Linked DNA regions of Homo sapiens. The protein of the gene in region 3 purifies or fractionates together with the protein of the main gene of each other region. This does not show direct contact. Each region holds a gene or a part of one and is shown on either strand. Other genes may lie near its edges. The genes, in order: CFAP54, P4HA2 and SRMS.

The links.
Region 1: the proteins of SRMS (region 3) and CFAP54 purify together in Homo sapiens (co-immunoprecipitation; one large-scale study listed by IntAct). This does not show direct contact.
Region 2: the proteins of SRMS (region 3) and P4HA2 purify together in Homo sapiens (affinity purification with mass spectrometry; one large-scale study listed by BioGRID and IntAct). This does not show direct contact.

Annotation. Positions count from the first base shown.
Region 1 is NC_000012.12:96,870,440-96,873,328, reverse strand, and holds part of CFAP54 (cilia- and flagella-associated protein 54), read right to left. Parts: intron 1-2,889. UniProt on the Homo sapiens protein: Required for assembly and function of cilia and flagella.
Region 2 is NC_000005.10:132,203,812-132,207,461, forward strand, and holds part of P4HA2 (prolyl 4-hydroxylase subunit alpha-2 isoform 2 precursor), read right to left. Parts: intron 342-3,650; coding exon 271-341; intron 37-270; coding exon 1-36. UniProt on the Homo sapiens protein: Catalyzes the post-translational formation of 4-hydroxyproline in -Xaa-Pro-Gly- sequences in collagens and other proteins.
Region 3 is NC_000020.11:63,544,905-63,549,133, forward strand, and holds the start of SRMS (tyrosine-protein kinase Srms), read right to left. Parts: upstream 2,846-4,229; 5' UTR 2,560-2,845; coding exon 2,204-2,559; intron 1-2,203. UniProt on the Homo sapiens protein: Non-receptor tyrosine-protein kinase which phosphorylates DOK1 on tyrosine residues. Also phosphorylates KHDRBS1/SAM68 and VIM on tyrosine residues. Phosphorylation of KHDRBS1 is EGF-dependent. Phosphorylates OTUB1, promoting deubiquitination of RPTOR.

The DNA.
Region 1 (2,889 bases), on a different chromosome or scaffold from region 3:
CTTAACTAATACAGTTGTAAGATTCAGATATAATCTCAGCTCTTTTTCCCTTATTATCCCCAAGCTTGACTCAAACCTCCCATTTCATAACCTATGAAAGTCTAAAACTATTCCCATGATTCCTACAAATTCCCCAAAACTTATGTTCTCATGATCCTTGTTCCAGAAATACCATGTTTATGATGCATGCAACTTTTCAACCATTCTACCTCATCACTAGCTTCTCAAACATTCAAACACATTTTACAACCATCATTTTTGTGAGTTTAGTAATTTTACTTAATGTTTGAGGGATCACTGTAATGGGTCACTTAATCCACTGTACAACCTTCTGTCATCTGATGGCTATCTATTCTTTTCTTCTCTTTCTCTTTTATTTCTCCAATTTTCAAAGTAAATAAATTCCTCTCTTTGTAGGATAGGCAGCCATTCCAGTTTGCCTGGAGCTGTCTTAGTTTGGGGATAGTCCCAGATTTTGCACTGAAAGTCAATCTCAGTTCTGGAAAAACTGGGAAGATTTGTGACCCTATCTCCTGTCTCAAGTAATTCTACCTGCTCCTCTGAAGCATCAAAGCTACCCCACATCAATGGCTCATAGAGACCACCTACTCCAACAGACTTATCAAAATACCTTTCTAATCAAGGCACCTCTGTCCTTAAAGGGAATTACTGTACTAGATGTTAAAAAATAAAATGTCTCATCATTAAATGGAAACACATTTAGAACTATGTCATCTTAATGAAATGATGCTTTCATCATTATAAAATGTTTTATTTCACCTCTGGCAGTATCCATTTTTGAAATATACCTTAATGACAATATAGCGACACCAGCTTTCTTATGTTCAGTGTTTACATGGTCTCCACTTCTCCATCCTTCTATTTTCAATCTGTTGGTGTCTTTTATTTAAAATAGAACAATCTCTGTTTTCAAATGAAAGTTTTGGTCCATTTACACTTAATATAGTTAATAATATGGTTAAATGTAAGTCTAGTGTAAGTCATCTAGATTAATAGGTTGACTTTTTTTTTCTTTCAGCACTTTTAAGAAGGCAACCCATTATCACTTGGTCTCCAATGTTTCTGATGAGAAGTCAGCCTTTACTCTTATTGCCCTCTTCCTTAGGACTTTGTGTTTTTTCTTCTGGTTGATTTTAATATGTTTTTCCTATTTTTGATTTTCAGAACTGTGACTATGATTTGCTTGGGTGTGGTTTTCTTTTTATTTATCATGCTTGGAGTTCATTGAACTTCCTAAATCCAAAGGTGGTTAATATTTTAAATCAAATCTGAAAAAATTTTGCCATCCTTTTTTCAAAGGACTCTTTCCTTCCTATCTAGGATTTCAATTTCTTCCTATCTGGGGCTCTTTCCTAACTTCCCTTCCTATCTTAGACTTCAGTTTCACACATGTCGAAACATGAATAGGCCATCATAGCTCTGAAATTTTTGAAAATCATTTTTTTCTCAGTGCTTAGATAATTTCTACTGATCTGTCCAGAAGTGTACTATTTTTTAAAAAAAATTCTGTAGCACCTAATTTGCTAAGTCCATTCAATGAATTTTTAAATTTCAGATCTATTTTTCCAGTTTAAGGATTTCCATTTGGTTCTTTTTCCATTTCCATATGTATCCTGATATCCCCCATCTCTTTATCCATTATAGCAATCTTTTTCAATAGATTATTTTACATGTATATTATAGTTATTTTAAAGTCTCCATCTGCTAATTCTAATACCTGGAACTTCTGGAAATGTGTTGACTGTTTTTTTCCTAGATTGTGGATGATATTTTCCTGCTTCTTTGTATATAAAGTAATTTTTAATTATTTACTGTACATTGTGGGCAACGTCGTTGAGTTTTGTTCTAGCATACAGTTAAATTACTGACAACCACTTTTATCTTATGGAGGTTTGATGGGTGGGCCTATTTTTGCTTTGCTGTTAGGCCTCATTTGTAGTCCTTGGTTCTAAAATCCTTATTCTTAAGGTATTTCCCTCCTAGGGTTTTAATGAAAAGCACAAATAATTTATTAAGTCCCTTTTCCTTGACTGGACTTGAATTACAAAATTTGTCTCTCCAGTACCATGCAGCTGTTGAAATCTCTGAGGCTTTGTTCTTTGAGCCTTTCAGCTATAACTTTCCATTGGATTCTCTGGAGTCTCATCATGTCCATGTGTTGTTGGTAGTCAGCCAACAGTTTTAGGAGAATTTGTGCACAGATTTTAGGGCTCCCCACACTGTCTCCCTCCTTGTTGAAACATTCCCTCCTTAATTTCTAACTACTCTGGCAGACCCACACCCTGACTTCTGAATCCTCAGTTCAGTCATTCAGCCTCTTCCTGATTGCACTCTGTCCCTTACGTATTTTGCAAGATGAGGTGTGTCCTCAGAGAATAGGCTGTTTAAATGTGGACCTCACCTAGTTTGTTTCCATATTTCAAGGATTACCATTCCTTTGGTTTCTGCCTATTTTTAGTCATTCCCCAGGGACTTCAAACATCATTTTAATTCTGATTTTATGATTGTTTGCACTGTTTTTTGATCCAGAGTTCAAAATTGTTATTGGCAAATGGTAGTTCAATAAAAGCCACTCTGCTATCACCAGAAATGAACTCCTATCATTACCATAAAAAAACCAAACCAAACCAAAACAAAACAATAAATAACCTCTGATCCTTCTAGACAGAAACGAACTTCCCCCGAAGATGTATGTAATAATATAAGAATGTAATAATGGTAAGAGCTACCTGTTATTGAGCATCCAGTATGTGTTGGACATTGTTCTAGGTGCTTTATGTATCCTAAATTTACAGACGAGAAAACTGAAGTACAGAGAAGTTAAGGAACTTGGCCAAATTCATGCAGGTGGTAAAAGGAAAGCCAGGA
Region 2 (3,650 bases), on a different chromosome or scaffold from region 3:
GCCACAACAGGGTCATCATCTTCCTCTAGCCAGGAGCTGGGCAAAAAGAAAAGGGCAGAGAAAAGAAGACGGAAGGGCAGGCTTCCATGAGGTCCTGAACTCTGTCCCCAGAGTCAGGGCCAGCATGAACAGGCAGTACAGGATGCCTGCTGCAAGGGGGTGAGGAGGTGCCAGCAGGCAGGAAAAGGCAAGCCACCCATCCCTAGGGTAGGCACTGAGAAGTCCTGAAGTTGGGGCTTGAGCAGCTACGAACCCCTGCTCTTTGCTTACCTTTTGGAAACCCGGTAGCTGGCGACAGTGAGGACTCCTGTCTTGGGATCACGAACGGTGGCTCGTGCAAGCTAGAAGGAAGGAGGAGAGGGAAGACTTGATTTGTTTGTTTGTTTGTTTTGCCTTGAATATTTTCCCAGAGAGCACTGGGACCAGATTTACTGCCATGCTAGTGGAGGAAGCTTTGCAGCCAATGGCTCTAGCCAAGGCCCCAAGATCCTGCAGGCCAGTTGAGGGCAAGAGTCTGAGGCCTCCACATTCCCAATCCGCAATCAGTTCCTGGCTATTGCCCTGCTCGGTCACTGCTCATCCCTTCTCCTCCCCAGGTCCGCTTTGCCTGCAGAATTATGCCTGCCTTGTCTACCCATGCATCTGCCTGACTAGCCCCTTTCCTTGCCAGGCCCACATACCACCCCTGCCTGAGCACAGCCTGCCTGAGCTTAGCTACTCCCACCATTTTCAGACTGTGCCACCATGCCTGAGCCTCCGCCTTATGTACTTCTCTCAATTGAGTCAAGTTCCACCATCCTTCCGAACCTCAGTGGGCTCCTCTGCCAAGAAACCCATCCAAACACTCTCCTGCTGCACCACCTCACACTGGGTTCCCACAGCCTCAAGAAGCAAAGACAGATGGCACAGTTTTCGCTCCCTTGGGATCCTTACAAGTCAGATGATAAAACCAGGAAAAGATTCTGTAAGTTAAAATAAGTGAACCACTGCCTGGAAGCCACCCACTCATACAGGTACACACTACACATGCACTCCCTGCATCTACTTCATCTCCCCCAGCCTCCACAGTTAGGCTTAGTGAAACCCCAAGGGGGACTCGCCGCCCAGAGCCAGCCAACATGGCAAAGGTCCATGTGCTTCAGCTGTGGACTGTCCTCATGACCTCACATGGGTGGGGCCATAGGCCCAGGTACTCCCACCCCAACACACTTCCCCTTGATTTCAATAAATATTGATGAGTGCCTACTTTGTGCCTGGCACTATGCTAGGTAACTGAGACATGGCCCCTGCACTCTTACAACTCAGTCAAGTGGGGAAAGCAGAAAACCAGTCAGGTAACTGCAGCACAGCATGGGTGAACTTACCATCCTGTGGAAGCTCAGGGTATAGTGTCAAGAATAGCTTCCTAGGGGAGGAGACCACCTAGCTGAGGCCTGAAGGGTTAACATGAGTTATCCAAGTAGAGGAACATTACAGGAACAGGGAAAGAGCAGCAATCCAGAGGCCTGGGAATGAAAATGGGTGTTGCAGTAGGTGTGGATTAAAGGTTATGGGAAGTAGTAAGAGAGAACAGGCTGAAGAGACAAGCAGGGGCTAGGAACTAGATGCAACCTTGTGGCCAACGAGAAATGGGGAAGGCTTTATGCAGGGGAGGGACACTCAAAATGTGAATGTAAAATGGATCACTGTGAATACCTCATGGAGAGTTGACTAATGAGGGGCCAGAGTGGGGACTGGGAGGCTAGTGAGGCCACGACAGAGGTCAGGGCAAGAGATGATGGTGGCCCGGGCCAGGTGGTGGCAGAAGGGATGGAGAGGAGTAGATGGACCAGAAGGCTAGTAAGGGGGTGAGATGGACCAACTTGGACACTGTGCTGCTATGGCATGATCTGGTAAGATGGCCAGCACAAGCAGGACAGACGGCTCCCAAGCTCCTACTCATGGCCCTTCCTGAGCTTCAGCTCATGTCAGTCCCTCCCTGAAAACTGCAGCCACAGCCAGACCCCATCCAAACATCTGTGCCTCAGCATTGGCCTGACACCCACAAAGAGGCTCTGAGCAGCTGTGCTCTGCCCCAGGGGAAGCACAGGGCTATTTTGAAAGCAGGCCAGAGACCCCACAGACAGCTGCCAGGCATTCCCCACAGGCCAAGTTAAGCTCATTGGCTCTACTTCAAAGCCAGAATAGCATCTGTCCCTCACAGTCTCCGGAAAGGAGGGGTCAGCTTATCTTTGAATAGAAGCCATGTTAAGAGCCAAACATGTTTGCCAACCTTGTTTGGCTCTTTGCATGGCTTCTATTCAAATATATCTTTTCCTAACACTACCCTCTGGCCAGCCACACACATGTGTACACATATGCACACATGCACAGAGAAATGTTCTCAGTGTCTGGAACTGAAGAACGGGTAAGAAATCTCTCAGGAAATCCTGGCACAACCAACAAAGTAGTTTTCTTTCCTGGAGGACTCTGGAGCTGAGTAGAAAGGGGAGTCCTAGTCCCCATTCTCCATATATCTGGCTAGCCCCCTTCCTCAGCCACATCGATGATGCCAACCACTGACTCAAAGCCCTAGATGTCCTAGTACCTCAAGCCAAAGCTGTTCCAAGATGAGGTCCAGGGGCCAGGATAGGAACCTATTTCAGGTCTCTCCATGAGTGTCGGGCCTCCTGGTCACCTCGGCCCCTACAATTCTATTAGGAGCAGAGCAATAGAGAATCGAGCTAAATCCTCCCTCCCAATCATCAGTGATGGGATATGGCAGCAAATAGGTCTCTTTGAAAGATGTCAAATGGGGAACAAATCTTTTATGAACTAGAAACAGAAGAATAATTTTAAAACATGGCATATATACAAAACCAACAGCCAACTGCATTCTTAGCAGTAAAATACCATAGGAATTTCCAGGAAATTCAGGAATGAGACAAGGATGCCTATTCTACGTAATTATGCTCTAGAAGTTCTGGGCAATTCAATAAGGTTATAAAAACAAAGGAACTACAAGTATCAGGAGAAAATAAAATTTTCCTTATTTCCAGGTGTTAATGCTATCCAGGCAACCAAAGAGAAATCAGCTAAAAACCAAAAAAGAAATAAGTAAATTCAACCACTAGCTGCAATCTGTATGAGTTTGCTTTTTCATAGGTAAAACAGAGACAGTGACATCATTATGAGCAGCTGTTCATAACTGTGACATAACACTTAATATATATGTTAAGCACTTAGAAGTTCCTGCCACAGTTAAGAATTCAGTAAACATTAGCTCTTACTATGAAATGTATTTGTAAAATCAATAGTTTGGCATATAATAGTAAACTAATAAAATAATGTAACCAGTTAAAAATAATAATGAAGAAATAAAGTAAATTAACAGTAACAAAGAAACTACCAAGGAATAAACTTAAGAAATGTTCAAGGCTTATATGAAGAAAACTTAAAAAGATATGGAGAGACCTGTCATGCCCTTGGATGAGAAGACCCAATATTATAAAGATATACATTCTCCTCTAAGTCATTCACCTCATTTACAGTCCTAATCAGGAGCTCCACAGGACCCAGCTTCATAGCATCCTATGGAACATTTCCAAAAAACTCACCCACGCACCAGTCTCCCAACCAGGTGAACTGACACACCAGTGTAGACCTGCCCT
Region 3 (4,229 bases):
GGCGGCTGCAGGGGGGTTGCTGTGCGAACGTTCAAAGCATCCTGCATCCCATGCTGGAGAGTTGTGCCCAGTACAGGACGGCCCTAAGCCCACTGGCGTCTGTTCGCACAGACACCCCCTCGGAAAAGCCAGGTGCAGGTGAGACCTCTCTGAACACGGTGGCAGGGTGGCAGGGAGCTCCCAGGTGCCCACTCCTCAGATGCCCACACACGAGGAGCCCACACCGGGTGTCGGGAGAGGGGCCGGCTGGGTCTCCCCTGTCCAGGTGGGCCGCCCACCAGGTCACATCTACTCATTCCTGGGAGCCGGAGGCATCCTTGGAAGGAAGACAGAAATGCTCCCAGCCCCACCCCGTCTGCATAACTCTGCTGCTGAAGTCCAAGGCGGGGACTCCACACCTGACTCAGCTTCCCACCCTGGAGCCTCCCACTTCCTGGAGCTTCCTGGGACCCGGAGAGGGATGCCTGCCACTCCCCTGCCCCAGGGCACACCCCGTAAGCACCAGGAGGAAGAAGCAGAGTGAGCCGGTGTCAGGGTGGGGCTGAAACCACCTGGGAAGCGGGACTAGGAGAGGACCCGAGGTGGGCCTCAGAGTCAACACAAGATTCGGGGCTGGGGCACGGCCATGCCATCCTGGCAGACTGGGACTGGGCAAGACGGAGGACACAGTCTGGCACCCCTGCCCCGGTGACCTAGGGGGCAATGGGGGCAGCAGGAATAGAAACTGACATGACCAGGGCCGTGGGGCTGGGCTTAAGTTGAAGGGAATGAAGATGGAGACAGGAAGAGGTGTGGGACCAGGGACAGAGAGGCAGCGGCCTGAGGCACTGACTCCATGGACGCTCTGTCCATGGAGCTCCTCCTGCAGCCAGGGCCCCTGCCTTCTGGGGTCTGCTGGCAGGGAGACGCAACCCTCTCACGTGTAAAGGGACTCAGGTCCCTCCCAGCACCGTGGGGTGTGGGGATGAGACACAGGTGTTTCCCCAAAACATCGCCAGCCTCCTCTGAAGCCCACATCAGGGCTTGGGGGTCAGAGGTGAGCCCCTGTGGGATCCTGAGATGCAGAGGATGTGTCTGAGGTCTCTCCCTGGGGCGTGGGGCCAGGTGTCTGGAGCTAATGACACCTGAGTGTGGTTAGTCTTTTAATCTCCAGCCTAGGCAAATAGTCATTAGCTTTGCCTATGGACCGCCCTGCTCCACCACGAGCCCTGCCCTCCAGGAACTGCTGAAGGGGTCTGTCCTCCACACCTGGGGTGACTGTGAGCCCCTTCCCATCACAAAGGCTGCTTGCCCCCCAACCACTGCTCAGGACAAGCGGGGCAGGTGTGGGGTGAGGGCCTGGGGCCCCTCAGAAGGCCCCTTCCTGTGACTCCGGCTTCACCCGCCCATGCAACCCCCAGGACGATGTGTGAGTGCCAAAGGGCCCCCAGGAGGCTGGAAGTGGCCCTGAGCAAGGCTGACCCCGAAGGTCTCCAGGGCTCAGGCCTTGCCCAGCTGGATGCCAGACCAAGGCAGCCGCTCAGAGCAGCCGCACTGGGCATCTGGACTAGGCGCCTCTGCAACCCCTGCTCACCTGCCCTCACCCAGAGCTCCTGGAGCGTGGGCCCCTGTCTCAGCCCCCAGTCCCAGCCCCTGCTCACCTGCCTTCACCCAGAGCTCCTGGAGCGTGGGCCCGTCTCAGCCCCCAGCCCCTGCTCACCTGCCCTCACCCAGAGTTCCTGGAGCATGGGCCCCTGTCTCAGCCCCCAGCCCCCAGCCCCTGCTCACCTGCCGTCACCCAGAGCTCCTGGAGCTCCTGTCATCTGGTGCCTCCCAGCCCCCAGCCCCTGCCCTCCAAGCAGTGACCGATCCATGAACACTGGACTCCCTGTGTGAGGGCGGGAGGGCCTGGCCAGCCAGGCAGGGTCCTGGAGGAACCGCCTGCTGGGTGTCCAGCTGGTGCAGCTGATGCTCCCCCCCACAGGACCTGACCACGCCTGCCGGAGCCTCCTCTCCCTCTCGGCAGCCCACAGCGGACACTGCTGTTTTCCTACCACACCTGCCGGCCCGGGGCCCATCAGCTGTCCCTGAATGAATGCGTGGATGAACGAATGAATGAACAGATAGCCACGGACATGCGATTTCCAACTCAAAATCCTGCCGTTGTTCTGGACTCCCCAGCTGGGGGCGAGGCAGGCTCTGACTCCGAGGCCGAGGTACTCACGGTTGGTCTGAGAGCGTCTCAGGAGAAGCCTTGGCCACGTGGGTGATGGGCACGAGCCCGGCGCTGGGCTGGCCCGAAAGCCTGCGTGCGAAGATGTAGCCGCCCCCCTCTTCGAGGGCACAGAGCCTGTCCCCGCGGCGGACACTCAGCTCCCCGCCACACCGCGCCGTGAAGTCATAGAGCGCAAGGAAGAGCTGAGGGAAGGGGCTGCAAGGCTCGGCGGGGAGCGTGGGCACTGGGTCAGTGTTGGGGTCCAGGGACCCGGGGGTGCCATGGTCCGGCTCGCCGCCCGCCGGCCAGATCTTGTCCCAGAAGAAGGACAGGAAGGCCAGCCGCCTCCTGAGGAACGGCTCCATCCCCCGGGGTCACCACGCTGGGCCCGAGGGCCATGGGAGCCCGCGAGCCCGGAAGAGGAACTGGCAGGGCCGGTGGGACCCGGTGTCCAGCGCTCCCTGCCCTGGCCGTGGGGTGACAGGGGACCCCGGCCCTGCGGTCACTCAGAGGTCCCCTGGATCCAGGAGGCACACGGTTCCCACCGGCGTCCGGGCTGGCGTTGGGGCTGGGTGGGGCGCAGGGCGGACCCCCTGCCTCAGGCACACCGACAGCACCTCCTGTCCTCGACCTCCTTGGCGTCTGGAGTGCACCGTCCCCTCCCCAACCCGACGGCAGAGGGCAGCTTGGGCTGGGGCGGGGGCGGGCTCCAGGAGGGGCCCGAGGAGGGCGGGGTGGGCAGGGCCAGCCTCTCTCCCGCCCTCTGCAAGGCCCAGGCAGGCGGAATGGCTCTGCCCAGTCAGGCCTGGCCCATGCCCAAGGGCACCACAGTCCAACAGCCGCCCGTGCCCACGGAGAAGTGGGGGTTCCACGGAGAAGCGCTGCTGTTCAGCACCTGCAGTGGTTGCCAAGCCTGAGCTGCACTCAGGTGAAAAATTGCCTGCTTATTTAAGTGTTGGCCAGATATTTTAACATCATTAACCCTGCACCAGGTGCCGAGCCTCCGGCCTCTGCAGTAAATTCTGAGGACAGGCGAGTGAGGGGGCTCTCAGCACCCCGGCTTTCATGCAGTAAAACGAGATGCTGATTGCAGGGAGCTCGGCCGCAGGCCAGGCACCCAGATGCCCCATGCTGCCCGATGACCGGCTTCTGAGTCAGTCAATGCCCAGGCCATACCCAAAGGCCACTGCGGGGAAGTGGAGGCTGCGGACGCCTGGCCCCAGTTCAGGGGGATGAGCACACGGAGAAGGGGCGGCGGGTGAGTCCCTGGCTGGGGACCTCCCACCCTCTCCCTGGACAGCGCCAAGCCCCCGCATGCTGAAGCAAACTCTGCCCGCTCAGGTAGGTCCCCAGATCGGGGCAGGACTGGGGGAGCAAATCCCAGCAAAACCCAGCAGCACGGTACAGGGTCCTGAGGCAGGAGGATGGGGTGGTGGCCATCTGCAGTCTCTCTCTCCTCCCACATCCCCTCCGGGTCCTGAGTGGGGTGGGGTGGGGGCCATCTGCAGTCTCTCACTCCTCCCACCTCCCCTCTGGGTCCTGAGGCACGGGGGTGGGGTGAGGCCATCTGCAGTCTCTCACTCCTCCTGCCGGCCTCCCCCAGCAGCCCCTTCCGCACCTGGGTGGCCTTCAGGGAGCCTCACGCCCCTTTCCCACATCTCACACGCATCCATGCCCCCACTTCATGCGTGTGGCTGAATGCATCCCTCCAATAGGCGTGACCAGTGTCCAGCCAATGACAAGCCCCTCGCACCTGCCTGCCCTGGAGTCACAGATGGGCTTCTCAGAAACCTCACGTCTGGGGACTGGTGTGTGCATTGTGGGGTGGCAGTGACACCCGTGGCCTGGCTCTCAGGGCACCCCAGCAGCCAAGCTGTGTCCGGGCTGATAGCCTGGAGCCAGCAGGGGCCCTGGGAGACTGGACATCGCCAGGCTCAGGGCAGGCTCTGCACCAGAGAGGTGCCCTGCTGGGGGTGGTGGGGGGTGTTGAGAAATGTGGAGAATTGTAAATACTACATTGGGGGTGGCCTTCGAG